Regions from separate parts of the Homo sapiens genome. Here region 2 is linked to region 1. Evidence: fine-mapped expression QTL. A gene starts in region 1. The other region holds a variant in brackets. All regions are shown on one strand. Distances are from middle to middle.

Region 1 (2,932 bases):
ATTCCTGAGCTAGAGCTAGAGAAGCAATGAGGACACATGTTTATTCTGACCCTGCAGAAGTTTGTAGTTCTGACACATTCCTCTATAAATAGCTGTTTTCAGAGCTGTAAAAACATTCAGCATTCAGCCAGACAATAAAGAGGCATTACAGTCCTATGGGCAGGAAAACAATTCTCTCCAAATTGTTCTTTTCTTCAATCTGCATGTTATTGCCCTTCTTAAAGCCAGGCTTTTAAGGAAGAGGCAAGCATGTGGGGTCTTGAGAAGGCTAGGTGGTACCTGGTCACCCAGACATGCAAGTGGTGTTGGAAACAGGCTGCGTGACCTCAGAACATGTCAGCCTAGAGGGCAGTAATATTAGGACATCTTCACAGGCTTTCCAGAGCCACCTCTATAGAATCCTGGGGTAGTGGGGTGACTGATATGCCAGAGACCAAGAACAACAAAGACAAGGAGGACTCACCTGCCTGTTCAGTGACTGCATCTGTGAGGAGATCAAAAGCCAGAGATTAGCACACAGCATTTGCCCTCATAATTTATAAATTTATATTACTCTGGTAAATTGCTCAAAAACTTCTTTCCATTTTCCCTTTCTTTTCTATTTCCCTAATCTCTTATTACTAACAATTCAATCTCCCTCGAGCACACATCTAACTGTCATTCATTGTAGTCAAAAGGCAAGTTGCAAACCCAATGCTTGACTAAAGGGATTGTCGAGAATACCCATGTTGGATATTTAGTGACTCTCCTTGATTTCATTTTCCTTCCACCATCCCCACCACTCTATCTCACACTCTGACTTTTCAAGTGGTAGATAGACATGACAACACGATCACAAAGGGCTCATCAGGAAACATACATTGTGAGAGTTCCAAGAAATCAACAAATCAGTCTCTTTCCTATGGCCATATTTCACGTTAGAGCCCTTTGTATTCCAATAACAAATATTTATTTAGTGCCTACACAGCATAGAGAAAGGGATCTTATTTACTCTCTCACCCAGGCTGGAGTACAATGGTGCGATCTTGGCTCACCACAACCTCCACCTCCCGGGTTCAAGCAATTCTCCTGCCTCAGCTTCCCGAGTAGCTGGAATTACAGGTGCCCACCACCACGCCTGGCTAATTTTTGTATTTTTAGTAGAGATGAGGTTTCACCATGTTGGCCGGGGTGGTCTCGAACTCTGACCTCAAGTGATCCACCAGCCTTGGACTCCCAAAGTGCTAGGATTACAGGTATGAGCCACTGCACTCACCCAGGAATCTTATTTTCTAGCAGCAGCTGTCATCTCCCTCATTGTCCACGATTAAACAGAGGAATATTAGCAAAGGGTCTCAATGCATCTGCTGAACCCAAATCTTATAGATAACAATTGAATAATCGGTGTTCATGGAGGAGAAGGGCATTGCTAAATGCTAATATTATGAACATTTTACTATGAGAACATTATATTACTCAATGAGATCTAAGATATCAAAATAGCAATTCATGACCAGCAAATGGAAAAGTGGTCCACCTTGAACATTAAGCATTGTGCTTAATGCTTAATGGATGTGCTGCAAATTCACTGTCCTCAGCCTACTTCTTTGCATCTGCCTTTGAAGCCCAAGCTGCAGGCAGGACCTGAGCATCCCCACCAGTCCCTGGGCTCCAATAAAACCTCCAACCTTTTGGGAGCAGTAGACCTCATTCAGCTGCCACCTCACTTCTCAGTCAAATTATTGAACTCACCAAAGATGACCAGCAATGACCACAGCAGCATGAGGACCTAATCCAGCTATTTGAAAAGAGATGTACTCTTGGTCACCAACTGGAGACTCTGAGCAGGCGATGAAATGTGGTTTTCAGAATAGGTTTTGTATAATTAGCAAAAAAGGAAGTAGAATAGTGCCACTATGTTTAACCATTATCTTTGTCCTGGAAGGGCTAAAACAATTATAGCTGATCCTCTCAATGCCAGAGAAATTTTGTAACTTGACCCTCATTATGATACCTAGCATTTACATATGGGTTGCAATGAGTCAGACACAGTTCTAAGTGCCTCATGCTTACAGAGTTATTTATTACCTTCAGCAAGTTTCTGAATTGGCACTATCCCCTTTCACATGAATAAGGAAATTGAGGCACTAGTAAAGGTAAGTGTCTTAGTCCATTGGGGCTGCTATAAAGAATACCTTAGACTGAGAAATTTATAAACAACATAAATTTATCACTCATAGTTCAAGAGGCTGGGAAGTTTAAGATCAAGGCACCAGTAGATTCAGTGTCTGATGAGGGCCTGTTTCTCATAGATGGTGTCCTCTATGTGTCTTCACATGATGGAAGGAGCAAACAAGCTCCCTCAAGCCTCTTTTACAAGGAGACTAATCCTTTTCATAAGAGTTCCACACTCATGACCCCTAAAAGGTCATGTAATAAAAGGTGGGTACCTTTTATTACTATTGCATTGAGGATTAAGTATCAACATAAGAATTTTGCCAGGACACAAACATTCAGATGATAGCAGCCAGTAAAATGACCAAGATCAGCTTAATCAATTTCTAGTAGTAACAGATCTGGGATTCAAACCCAGGCAGCCCAGTGTCACAGTCTGGCTCTTAAACATTGTGCCCTATTATCTTGATATATTGCTTCTCAAGGTTCATAAAATAATAAGGCCATTGTTTCAATAGCTCATATTTCTTAAGTAAAATTTTTCGTAGTCATTCGATGACTTTCTAGAATGAGATTTTACTAAACTTCAAAACACTTGCACTATATTGCTGAAAACATTGCCATCTTTCTAATCTGTAATCACAACATTGCCTATTTCTAATCTGCATTGCTTTTTGTACCCCAGGCTGATCCTAATACAGTTATCTCACACAAAGCAAAGCGCGTGTTATGTGAACACCTATTATCATGCTCACTTTGATTAGATGTAGTCCCAGTA
Region 2 (2,932 bases), 71 kb before region 1:
GGCTTTGTTCATAGGTCAGTGGTTGTTTCTATAGAGGCAGGACTGTACCCATGAATGTCAATAAGCAAAAGGCACAAGAAACTTGTGAGGGCCTTCAAGATTGCTGCGAAGCCCTTGTAAGCAGGGACAGACAAGGCAAGGGCTTACGTATGGGCAGTAAGTGCTTGGAAGGACACAAGTGCTGCCTGGCAACAGAACTTTGGGGGCTGCAAGATGGTTCAACAGAGGCCCACAGTAGGCACAGTCACATTTTCTAGGTAGTCATAGCTGAAGCAGATAGTCTTTTGTTTTGTTTTTTTTGGGGGGAGGGAGGGGCAAAAATAGAAATCTCTAAAGCATTTTTAGGCACTGGTGACTGGAATAATATTTTTGGCTCCAAGATTCCTTGTATGCTACAAAACACCAATGAGAATCTAGTTTTAAATTGCTAGAATGAAGCCTAGAAAAGCTTCCCATGTCTCAGTCACCCCAAATCTCACCCTGCTTTCAGGTCCAAGCAGCAAACTGGATGGATTACTCTTGAATTCATGTGGCATTCTCTTGGCTCAAGGGTGGAAAACATTTAAACAATTACTGACATGATTACATAGTTATTGTAGGTGGCTTAATTTTTTAATTCTTTCATATACAGATGGGGCTGTGCTCCCCAGACTGGTCCTGAACTCCTAGACTCAAACAATCCACCCACCTCTGCCTCCCAAAGTGCTGGGGCTCCAGGTGTGAGGAAACACACCTGGTCAGTTATATTTTCTAACTGAACTAAATGTAAGTACAAGGTGAAAATATTCCCTAGGAGACAGTCTTCTTAGGCCAGTACAATTCCATATCAAGCAGAGGTTGGTCTGCTCACTTGAGAGAGTAGATGCTGTGTCACATAAGAGGTCCCTCACTGAATTCAGAGCTGAGGTGTCAGGAGCACTTCACTCAAAGAGGAAGTGAAAATCAAGATGCTTTGAATAGATTCAATGGAAAAGAAAGACACAAAATGTTATTTTAACATAGGTTCCTTCAATGTCTAGTTTATTGAGAGGTTTTAACATGAAGAGATGTTGAATTTTATTGAAGGCCTTTTCTGCATTTGAGATAATCATGTGGCTTTTGTCTTTAGTTCTGTTTATGGGATGAATCACATTTATTGATTTGCATATGTTGAACCTTGCATCCTAGGGCATAAGAAACCCACAGCCAATATCATACTGAATGAGCAAAAGCTGGAAGCATTCCCCTTGAAAACCGGCCCAAGACAAGGATACCCTCTCTTACCACTCCTATTCAACATAGGATTGGAAGTTCTGGCCAGGGCAAT[C/T]AGGCAAGAGAAAGAAATAAAGGTATTCAAACAGGAAGAGAGTAAGTCACACTATGTTTGTTAGCAGATAACGTGGTCCTATATCTAGATAACCCCATCATCTCAGCTCAAAAGCTTCTTAAGCTGATAAGCAACTTCAGCAAAGTCTCACGGTACATAATCAAAGTGCAAAAATCATGAGAATTTCTATACACCAACAGTAGACAAGCAGAGAGCCAAATCATAAATGAATTCCTACTCACAATTGCCACAAAAAGAATAAAATACCTAGGAATACAGCTAACAAGGGAAGTGAAGGACCTCTTCAAGGAGAGCTACAAACCACTACTCAAGGATAGCAGAGATGACACAAAGAAATGGAAAAACATTCCATCCTCATGGATAGGAAGAACTGATATCATGAAAAAACAATTTATAGATTCAATGCTATGCCCATTAAATTACCATTGACATTCTTCACAGAATTAGAAAAAAAAATTTTTTTAATGTGTGTGGAACAAAAAAGAGTCCAAATAGACAGGACAATCCTAAACAAAAAGAACAGACCTGGAGATATCACACTACCTGACTTCAAATTATACTACAAGACAACAGTGACAAAAAAGCAAGGTATTGGTATAAGAACAGATACATAGACCAATGGAACAGAGTACAGAGCCCAGAAATAAGACCACACACCTAAAACCATCTGATCTTTGACAAACCTGACCAAAACAAGCAATGGGGAAAGGATTCGCTATTTAATAAATGATGCTGGGAGAACTGGCTAGCCATATGCAGAAAATTGAAACTGGACCCCTCCTTTCACCATATACAAAAATTAATTCAAGATGGATTAAGAACTTAAATGTAAAACCCAAATCTATAAAAACCCTAGAAGAAAATCTAAGCAATACCCTTCAGGACATAGGCGCAGGCAAAGATTTCATGACAAAGACACCAAAAGCAATTGCAGCAAAAGCAAAAATTGACAAGTGAGATCTAATGAAACTAATGAGCTTCTGCTCAGCAAAAGAAGCTATCATCAGAATGACCAGACAACCTACAGAATGGGAGAAAATATTTGCAATTTAACCATCTGACAAAGGTCTAACATCCAACATCTACAAGGTACTTAAACAAATTTACAAGGGAAAAAAATAAAAAACAACCTCATTAAAAAGTGGGTAAAGGACATGGACAGACACTTGTCAAAAGAAGATATATATGTGACCAACAAACACATGAAAAAAAGCTCAACACTACTGATCATTAGAGCAATGCAAATCAAAGCTACAATGAGATACCATCTCACACCAGTCAGAATGGCTACTATCAAAAAGTCAAAAAACAACAGATACTGGCAAGGTTGTGGAGAAAAAGGAAAGCTTATACCCTGCTGGTGAGAGTATATATTAGTTCAATCATTGTGGAAGACAGTGTTGTGATTCCTCCAAGACCTAGAGGCAGAAATACCATTTGATCCAGCAATCCCATTACTGGGTATATACCCAAGGGAACATAAATCATTTGATTATAAAGATACTTGCATGCATATGTTCATTGCAGCACTATTCACAATAGCAAAGACATAGAATCAATCTAAATGCCCATCAATGATAGACTGGATAAAGAAAATGTGGTACA

What was found. PIP is the estimated chance that this variant, and not a neighbour inherited with it, causes the effect. A credible set is the group of variants that fine-mapping cannot tell apart.
Region 2: its variant is the best candidate, but not a certain one, in a credible set for the expression of FCRL2 in whole blood (TOPMed, PIP 0.75).

The regions. Positions count from the first base shown.
Region 1 is chr1:157,775,312-157,778,243 of GRCh38, forward strand. FCRL2 (Fc receptor like 2) reads right to left here and starts at 1,821. Exons shown (of 12, transcript NM_030764.4): 1 at 1,732-1,821; 2 at 464-484. The coding sequence starts at 1,762.
Region 2 is chr1:157,704,177-157,707,108 of GRCh38, forward strand. No RefSeq gene overlaps it. Among named protein-coding and RNA genes, the nearest start is that of FCRL3, 4.9 kb to the left of the region's middle. The variant C/T (reference allele first, on the strand shown) is at 1,307.